2 separate regions of the Homo sapiens genome follow, and region 1 is linked to region 2. A link means that fine-mapping ties the variant in region 2 to the expression of a gene that starts in the linked region. Tissue or cell type: lymphoblastoid cells. Region 2 holds a variant in brackets; the other region holds the start of a gene. All regions are shown on one strand. Distances are from middle to middle.

What was found. PIP is the estimated chance that this variant, and not a neighbour inherited with it, causes the effect.
Region 1: it holds the start of MTCH1, and the variant in region 2 is fine-mapped to the expression of MTCH1 in lymphoblastoid cells (GTEx, PIP 0.90).

The regions. Positions count from the first base shown.
Region 1 is chr6:36,983,686-36,988,685 of GRCh38, reverse strand. It overlaps MTCH1 (mitochondrial carrier 1), which reads left to right and starts at 2,490. Exons shown (of 12, transcript NM_001271641.2): 1 at 2,490-2,833. The coding sequence starts at 2,513. RefSeq lists enhancers at 1,886-2,095, 2,214-2,936 and a silencer at 2,186-2,775.
Region 2 is chr6:36,263,490-36,268,749 of GRCh38, reverse strand. It overlaps a transcript of PNPLA1 not described here. Among named protein-coding and RNA genes, the nearest start is that of PNPLA1, 3.9 kb to the left of the region's middle. RefSeq lists an enhancer at 1-582. The variant T/A (reference allele first, on the strand shown) is at 2,172.

The DNA of each region.
Region 1 (5,000 bases), 720 kb before region 2:
TGATTCTCCTGCCTCAGCCTCCCGAGTAGCTGGGACTGCAGGCATGCGCCACCATGCCCAGCTAATTTTTGTATTTTTAGTAGAGACGGGGTTTCACCATGTTGGCCAGGCTGGTCTCGACCTCAGGTGATCCACCCGCCTCGGCCTCCCAAAGTGCTGAGATTACAGGTGTGAGCCACCGCGCCTGGCCAGAGCTAACTCCTTTATAGCTCTAAAGGTTTATTGCCAGGTTGCTCAGTAGCTTGACTGCTGAGGAAGATTTTCTTTCATTCAATCATTTCAGTGAGTATACTTTTCATTTCTAGATGTTCTGTTTGGCACCTTTTCAAATACACCTGTTTTTTTTTTTCCTTTACAATTCCTGTTCTTTTTACTAGTACTTCCTATTATTTATCTTTGCCTTCATTTGAAACCTACTTCTTTCCTTTTAATTTTCTTTGAGATGGTTCTATTATCTCAAGTTCTTCCTGTTTTGCCCATTCTCTCTCATGATGGCACGTTTCTTTGAGCGGCTCATACATTTTTTATTGTGAGGATTCTTTTTTTCTTCCTCTTGGAGTCTCTGTGAGCCCTGAGTTGTAGAAATACAGCTATTGTGCAGTTTAACATTTGCTTCTGCTTGGTACCCTACGGGTCTAACTGGTTTAGCTGATCTATTTTTCCTTCAATTTCTTCACTTGGAGAAATTGTTCGATCATTTAGAAATACTTTACTGAACATGTACTATGTGCATAGTCCTATATCTGATGTTGTGGAAGATACAAAACAATGCAAGACAACACAAAGTTGCTGCTTCACATGAAACTACAGTTTGAAAGGGCCAAATACAGTATAGGCCCAAAGTTAGGTGACCATGTAAGGCAGAGTAAAAGGCTCAACGGTGAACAGCCAAGTTCAGAAAGAAAAACAGACAGTTGGAGAAAAATGGGGACGAAAAGCCCAAAGAAGGAAAAGGTTCCTGTGAGGAAGTTTCAGAAGGATGGGGAAGTAAATCATCCTCCCCTACCCCCACCCCCCACCCCCAAACTAAAACCTATCGCCTCTTCTGGGTAGAGAGTTAGTGTGGCACTAGGAACTTGACTTTGAGGTCCTTATTGAGAAAGCTAAATCAGAACCTAGGCAAAAGGAAGTCATTTAAGGTGCTCCTGGGGGATGTTTGATGAAAATTGTGTTTGATGGAGAAAACACAGCAAGTTGAAAGGGTTAGCAGGCTTTGCAAGTGATTTCACTAGGACAAGCCTGGGTTAGGGAGGCCAAGGTGAGGGAGAGAGGGAGTGTGGCATGCTTTGAACGTGGAAAGTACATAGTGTTCATTATCAGGAGTGGGAAGAGGGGAGGTAGCTTTTTAGGGGGTAAGGCAGGAAGGGAGTTAGAAAGGACAGACTGGGAAACCCGGACTAACAGTGGCAGGTGTCGATCTAAAGAAATTTCTCACAATGAACTGGCTATAGACTAAGTACAGACAAAGGGACCAGGTCTTCCATTGCTGTGTCCCTGCACACTCTAGGATCCGTTCAAACAGAAACTTTTATTGCGAACCCCCAAAACTAGCACGGTTCTGTTGTAGGTGTTGTTGCAGAGTGTCGGGCACGTTTACAAACAGGAACAGGGCACTTGCTGTCCTATCTTCCTCGCAGGGTTCTTGTGACGATTACACTTAAATCAACACGTATAAAGCATTTTAAAAAGTGCCTGTCACATAGTCCCTGCAATTTAAGGTCTAGTTGTGATTATTCACTTGTATTAACTAAGAATCAACTACAGGCGCCTAGCAGTGCCTGCATGTGCTCACACTGAGGCACTCACTAAAACCCTCAGGATCTAGTGAGGGAGACAGTCAAATACTTTAGAGCAAAACAAATTTTACAACCACGGACTCTGAGGAAGGCGTGCGAAGGCTCCACAGCTGGGGAGGGTGCCCACAGTCGCCGAGGGGACATCTGGATTTGCTCTGGTTGGGAGAGCATTCCTGGCAGAGGAGATGGAAAATGCGATCGGACAAAGAGGCTGGGACCGCGGAGGGGATCGGGCTCGGGGTCGGGGCTCGTCCTGCAGCAGGAGATTCAGCTCGCGCAGAGTTCCACGCAGGCCGCGGCGACTGGGATCTGGGCCGCAAAGGGGCGGGCAGAGAACTGCAGAGAAAACTCCCGAAGCCAGGGAGGTGGCTTGGAAGCGCCTCAGACCATATTGGGGACGTCTGGCAGCCAGAGGCGCCGAACCCCGCCCCCGCGTGCTCTGGGCATCCCGGGGGAGCGCCCCGGCCTGCGGCTGCCGCCACAGCTCCCGAGCCCGGGGCCCCGGCTGCCCGCCACCATTGACCCCCGGCCCGCAGCCCAGTGTCCTGCTAGGCCTCCAACCGGCCGGGGAGCCACATCCGGCGTGTCCCACCCGCCGCACCACGCTCCCGAGCTCCCCCGCGGCCTGGAGTGGTGCGCCCCGGCCCCGCCCCCTGACGCCGGTGAGGGGGCGTGGCCCCGTCACGTGACGGGGAGTGACCTCGCCGCCGGGCGCCATGGGAGCTTCGGACCCGGAAGTGGCGCCCTGGGCTCGCGGCGGTGCCGCGGGGATGGCGGGAGCCGGAGCTGGAGCCGGAGCTCGCGGCGGAGCGGCGGCGGGGGTCGAGGCTCGAGCTCGCGATCCACCGCCCGCGCACCGCGCACATCCTCGCCACCCTCGGCCTGCGGCTCAGCCCTCGGCCCGCAGGATGGATGGCGGGTCAGGGGGCCTGGGGTCTGGGGACAACGCCCCGACCACTGAGGCTCTTTTCGTGGCACTGGGCGCGGGCGTGACGGCGCTCAGCCATCCCCTGCTCTACGTGAAGCTGCTCATCCAGGTGGGGGACCAGAGGCGCCGTAGGGAGATGGGAGGCTGATGTGAAGGTGACAGGCCAGGATTTGGAGGATTGGGGCGGGCAGTCAATGGCGACGGATTTGGGGAGAGGGGTGGGGACGGCGGGTTTGGGGGGCCGAGTGGGTGGGATGGGAGGGAAGCCGTGAGGGAGTTGGGAACGCAGGGGTCACGGGTTTTAGGATACAGAAAGGAGACCAAGGGGTTAGAGTAATAACAGATACGGGAGAGGGTGGAAGGAACAAGCGATTTGGGGGAGTGCCAAGGAGGGAGCGATGGGCTGGAAAAACATATTTGGGAGATAAAGGAGTGGGGACGATGGACTTGGGATAGGGAAGGGAGCGAATTTGGGGCGAGGGAAGAAGCAATAGAATTGGGGGAGGGGCAAGAAGTTTGGGTGAAGAGATGGGGAGGAAGGTTGGGGGCCCAGGCAAAGTGTTTAGAGAATGAGGAGCACATAATTGGGGTAGAGGGGAACGGAGGCTCTGGATTTGATAGAGATGGATTTAAAACGTCTTGGGGTGGGGACAAAGTGGGCGCCAGGGCCAGAAATTTAGGAGGGAAAGAAGGACACCAGACTGGGGGTGGACAGAGGAGACGGAGGTCTTGGGTTGCATTGTGATTTAATTTGGTGGGAGAGTGCGAAGGCAAAGACTTTTGCAGGGGAATGCTATCGGTTTACCGGAGATGGGGGCTCTGGATTTGATGGCGACGACGGATTTGGTAGGAGGAGGGGACAGGGTGACGCGTATGGGGGGAGGGGAACAGATAGGGCCAGCATTGGGGGAGGGGAGTGGCAGCGATTTGTCTAGAGAGGGGAGCTAGGAGGAGGCTTTAAGCGGGGAAGGGGGATGACGCATTTGGAGGAGGAAATGGAAGTCATAGTTGGGGTCAGAGAGAGGAATCACAGTGCTTGTATCTGGGCAGATGAGGAGAAGGGGCACGGGAGTATTGAAATTGGGCAGAAGGGACAGTGGAGACATAGGTGGCAGGATAGGTAGGGACTACCAGAAATTGAGACCGAGGTAGGGATGTCTCTGGAACAGAGGGATGCATAGGCACTTGGCAGATTTGGTGGTGGCCAGCAATGCGGTACAGATGAAGTGTGCTGCTTGAGGAGTGAGCTGGAATGAAGGGCGTGTGGAGGTGTGAGAATTAGGTGGGTGTGGCTGGGATGGGTACAGTTTTGATGGGGGTCATTAGGCCAGAATTTTCCAGTTAAGAAGCTTGGGGGGAGGAAGGTAAAAATTGAATTGGAGACCCATCCAAGATTTGAGTTGAGGCAGGTGGGTGTCAGATTTTACCATCTTTATAATTGAACCGAGAGAATGCAAAATACAACTGGAATGAGAAGGCCTTGAGAATGAGAGTAATTGAAATCTGGGATCCGAGGAATGGTAATAGATTTGTGGGTGTGACCAGGAATATGACAAGGAATGAGGAGATTCAGTCAGGGGCATCAAGGTGCCTGACTAGACCCTAATTGTGACAGATTTGAAAATTGTTGATGGCGGAAGGTGTAGACCAGACTGGCATTTGGTTGTGATTTGGGAATGAGGGCTGTCTTACAGGGTTAAGATTGTATTTACAGCAGTTGAACTTGAAGTTTGGGAGATAAATTGGTGCTTTGGACCTGAGAAGTGAGGGTTCTGGAAACTGATGGAATGAGACTGAGTGAGGGCTAGGATTTTAGGGCACAGGTGGGAGAGTCTGTGGAGTGAAGGATACTGGAGCACAAGGGCTCAGTGTGAGGGAAATGAAGAAGTGGCTTCATCATTTGGATGATGGCAGATCTGGTTTGAAAGAACATTGAAATGAGGGTGGTTTGGGAAGGGAATGGGGGAATGAAGGACACCAAAGCGTGAGAAGAACTAGATGGTGGGCAGGTAAGGATGGATGAGCCCTGTTGAAGGACCAGAGGTGCCTGTCTGATTTGAACCCAGCTGGTGTTGAGTGTAACATATATTAGGGTAAGATCTTCAATGGGTATAGTTTGGGAATCAGAGTAATAACTTGCAGAAAGGCAAATTACTGGGAGTGGGGGTGTCAGGAGTGGAGTGACAGATTTGGGGATTGTCTAGATTAGGTGCGTAAGAATGCAGTGCCTTAGATTAGTGCATGTGGCTGTCAGGTTTGGGAGTCGGAGATTTTAA
Region 2 (5,260 bases):
CAGGCTTCTTGGGAACAAGACAGGCAAATGTGAAATAAGCAGAAAACTGTACAAGGCAATCTATAATTAAGTACTAAACTGTGCAGGGCTGAGATTCCTGCCAGAAAAGTTAGGAGGCGGGGCTGAGCAGTGTGGGCTGGAACATCTGAGGAGCTGTGCGGCGGAGGTGTGGGCTGCGGGACTGGAGGCAGCTGGGAGGAGCAGGCAGGCACTGGTCGAGGAGCAGCAAGAGCCCCTTGCAGAGAAGGGAAGGGGTGTAATGGGACCTGTTTCACAGGATGAAGGGCTTTGGATGAGAACCCTTCTGAGTCATGACATTGGATCCCAACTCTGCTATTTACAGGCAGTGTGACCTGTGCATGATCTCTCTGGGCCTCAGTTTTCCTCATCTGTGAAAGGGACAATACTGTCATTCCTATGCTGCACAGTAGCTGTAAAGGCTAAAGGTAATGGCTGTAGGACGCCTGGCACACGGCACGTCTGTGGTTATCAGAGGGTAGTAAGAGTCAAGGCTTCTGGAACAGATAGACCCCAGAGATAAGGTGGAATAGAAAGGCAGGGTCCAAAGGGGAAGGCTTGATCCACATGCGACATGAGGAGGAGCTTGGAGAGGTCTCAAGATGCAGAGCCTTGGAAGGAAGATGAGACTGGGGCTGGAGAATGAGGAAGGAGGATGGTGGCCCATTCTCCTAGGATGATGGTGGCCAGGCCAGGGTGGCAGCTGCAGGAAGACAAGTTAATGAAGTTATTGCTGCAGAAGACTCTCAGGGCCAGGGACTGGTTGGATGGGCAGGGTGAGTCAAGGCTGAGGCCTCACTTTTAGCCTGGGGGTAGGGAGGAGTGGGGCTGCCTCCTGCAGAGTTGGGGAAACTGGAACAGACCTGGGGAAGCTGGGTGGAGGATGATTTTACTTTAAGATGCATCTGAGATGACAGCAAGACATGGGCACTATCCATGGGGGGGGCAGGGATGGCACCAGAACCAAGGACAGAGATCCCTGCCACTGAGGCAGCAGAGAAGGGTAAGCAGGCGGAGGAGGGTGTGGGGTCATGTTGAGGGGAGGACAGCTATGGATAAGTTTCTTTTTCCGGGTCATCCCAGTGAAATAGAAAGCAAGGCCACCTGCTGTACATGGGCTTCAGGCACCTGGGGGGCTGGGGACCCACCACCCCTTCAGAGACAGTGCATCCTGACATGGCCCCCGTTGTCCCCACCTGCTTGGACCCGGCTGACTTCCACGAATGCACATATGTTTCTGTTCCCTGTGGACGTGGAGACAGCAATGACGCACAGCCTCCTCCATGCAAACACGCCAGCCAGAAATCCGTGACTATACCCAGCAAGGCCGTGGAGGAGCTGCTAACCTGGACCCCAAAGGCTGAGCCTGGCAGACTGGTCTCCACAGCTGACAAGGGCTGGTGAGCAGCAGGCCTCAGCCTGTCCTCTGCTGGGTGCTAAACTCTTGAGAAGGTTCCTTTCATTCGCCCTGGTTCCTGACCCTCTACTCACGCCCTAAGAACTTCAAGCGAATGACATCGAGGAAGAATCACTTTCCAGCATCTCTGTATTTGATTTTTAGTCATCTCATGATCTTTGCAGGTGTTTTTTAACTAAGTTAACACTGCTTGTCTGACTCATCCATCCCTGAGGAAATCACGTGGGAGAAACAGATTGCTTATCACACACTTCCAACAAGACAACCCAAAATGAATTTCTAGAGGAAACTGGACTTCCCATAAGTTTAAGATATGTGAAGCCACCCAGGATGGATACTGGGGAGAAAGATGCACATAGACTCCAGACTGGCTTTTACCTGATGGGGTATCACCCTTTGCTTACCTCCTGAAAATGTTAATTTAGTGAAGAACCTGGTGGTTTCTTGATTCGGTAGAGTAGGAAGGTCACAACATCACCCGTGATTATTCTTGCCAAAACGATGTCACCTGAATCTAATTGAGGCCTAACTTCCAGCTTACAGTAAATATGGAGCATGAAGGATGCCAGGTGCAAACAATCAGACAAATGGAGCCTGTGGGAGGCTGGCAGAGACTGTTGCTGGCTACCAGCAGCCATCTGCGGCCCACTTACTCCTTGCCCACCTCCCTGTAAAGCAGCTGAAAGGCCTGGTCCTTGGTTTCAGCTAAGGGTGAATCATGAGCTCACGGTGATCA[T/A]CAGACCCCACCCCCCTGGACAATGAGAAGTAACAGGGACTCTGCTGGATTGCTTCTTGGAAAGATTTCCCTCCTTGATAAAAGGTAAAAGGCACACAGGGAGACCCCTGTAGCCCCATCCCATTTTCTTCCTGACAGAGACACTGTCCTGGGAGCATATGGTGTGCGGATCTATGACAACTGTTTTACATCCATCAGGGGAAACGTGGCAGACACACTGAGTGTATTGGTTACCCATTGCTTCATGACGATTTACCCTGAAACATGGCACTTTCAAACAATAAGCATGTATTACCTCACACCATTTTTGAGGGTCTGGAAACTGCAAGTGGCTTAGCAGGTGGTTCTCGCTCTTGTCTCTCAAGGTTGCATTCAGGCTGATAGCCAGGGGTGCAGTCATCTCAAGGCTCGTTGGAGCTAAAGAACCCACTTCCAAACTCACCCTTCTGGTTGCCAGTGGGTATCAGTTCTTGGTCAATGTTGACAAAAGCTTTAGTGCCTCATCAAGTGGGCCTCTCTATTGGGAGCCAACTTTCTTGGCAGCTGACTTTCTTCAGTGAGAGATGAAGAGAGTGAGAGAGAGAATGAGGGAAGGAGAGTGTGTGAGCCCAAGATGGGAGCTGCAGCCTTTTTATAACCTAACCTCTGATGTAATCTCAGCTATATTCTATTGGTCACACAGACCAGCCCTGGTAAAATGTAGGAAAAGTGTGAATACCAGAGGGTGGGTATTATCAAGGGCAAATTTGAAGGCTGGCTAAGGCATCAAAAATCGTATAAGAGAAAGCAAGAAAAACCCTGGGTCCTTGATGAGATTCTTGTGTGACTGCACCAACCCCCACACCATTTGTGTGTGTGCTTCCTATGATGACAGATAACTCAATGTCTTTGTTTTTAGTCACTGTTCCCTTGATATTTGCTGCTGAAAACCTCATGGCCAGTGCAAGAGCTCTTAAATATTTCTAGTAAAATGTAGCCCTTATTTTGAGAAGAATGAATGAAATATGCCCTTTGCTTTTAGTAAAAACAAAAGAAATACTTTAAGGTATAGATACTTTGTTATCGTAGGTAAAATAACTGATTCATGAAAATTCTGAAAACTTAATTTGAAAATTTGTATATATTTTTAGAAATTGTTTACCAACTTATTTTTGTTAGAAGCCAAGAAGTAGATTTTTTTTCTCTTCCCTACCCCTCCTGAAAAATACAGTGGGGGTCTGATAACTTTTTTCTCTTTGAGACAGAGTTTCGCTTTTGTTGCCCAGGATGGAGTGCAATGGCACTATCTCGGCTCATTGCAACCACCGCGTCCCAGGTTCAAGACATTCTCCTGCCTCAGCCTCCCAAGTAGCTGGGATTACAGGTATGTGCCAAAACGCCCAGCTAATTTTTGTATTTTCAGTAGAGATGGGGTTTCACCATGTTGACTAGGCTAGTCACAAACTCCTGACCTCAGGTGACCCGCCCCCCTCAGCTTCCCAAAATGCTCGGATTACAGACATGAGCCACCATGCCTGGTCCTGATAACTAATTAAACAGCCCTCCACTGTAGCACTGGCCTTTTGAGGTGTGTGACTTAATTTTTGAATACTTGACCAAACATGTAGACATATCCATGGTGGGGGTAGAAGTGTTTAAATGTTTCCAAAAAGTCAGGAATTTTTAAAGGTACAATGTAAGGAGAGAGGAGAAAGTTTGGCACAGCTGAGATGGGCACAGTTGAGAAGCTTGCTGGCTTCCTGAGCTGTTGTTATTTTGTAGGACCTTGAGATTATTCATGCAGTCTAAATAGTATCTTTTTTCTTATAATGAAAGAGCTCTAGCATAAAGTACCCAAACTAGTGCAGCAAACATTCATATACCCACCAGCCAGACTGAAGAAATCTTAACATTTTACTACATTTGGCTCAGCTATTTCCCTGGTTTTAAAGCAATGAGACGTCACAAGTAAAGGTGAAACCTCCTCAAACTGTTTCCTAATCAATATCACCTTTCACTTCCCCTCCCAGGAGAACCAGGGAGGGAGTGTTCCAGGTTGAAGGGACTCTTTCCCTTCCATGTTTTTTATACTTTCAGTATATTAATATGTTTCATAAACAATATATACTATCGTTTTATAAATCTTTTTAAAAATTTCACATAAACAAACACATTGCCTTTATTTTGCAAATTGCTGTTTTTACTTGGTGTTATGATCCCTGGCTCCAGTCTTTTCCATTTTCCTGCTTTCTGGTGACCCATTATGAGACCATGGGACAACATGTATCATTCTCTTCCTGATGGACATTTGGGTTGTTTCTAGTGTTTTGCTGTAACCAGCAATGCCACAGTGAATCCTTTTGTGTACATCCTTCCTTGGCCCTGCATAGGAATTTCTCAGGTCACAATGTGGGTTTATCAATGGTACCCACAGGATTTCAGTTGATGGAGGTGACTGAGTTACCACATGGAGAGGCTAGTGTCATTGAAGAGATTTCTGTTGCACATACTTACATTTCCTTGCCATGCAGGACTGCATGGGGAAGCTCCAGGTTCGGTCATGGGGCAGAAGGGACGAAAGGAGAGCACAGCCCAGAGCCTTTACGGTGTTTTCCGTGGGAAAGGGAAGGGAAGCGGGGAAGCAGCTTAGGGGCAGGGAAGCAGCTTAGGACTGGCTGATTCAAATCAAGGTGGCGGGCTCTGGGTCATAGGGTTGGTCTCTAGTTGACTGGTGCCTGGCTCTGGGTGATTTTGCCTCTTGGAGTGTAAAAGCCAGATAGAGAGGGTGGATCAGAGCATGGGCTAGTTTACATATGAGAGGCGCCGCTGCCCCACCCACCCCAGCCCTCTGCTATCTCTAAGAATGGGGTAGCCCTGGGAGGGGCAGCCTTGCCCCCATCAGTGAGGCCACAAATGCCAGAACATCAAAAATTCACAAAATAAGAAAGCATGGTTAATACAATGGGCATTTCTGCAACTCTGCAAGGAGTTGCTCGATTGCTCTCTAGAGTGGGTGTGCCAGTTTCCACTCCCATTGAGTGTTTATAAGAGTCCTAATCACGTCACTTCTCTTATTACCAGATTTAAAACGTTTTGCCAGTCTGAGGGCT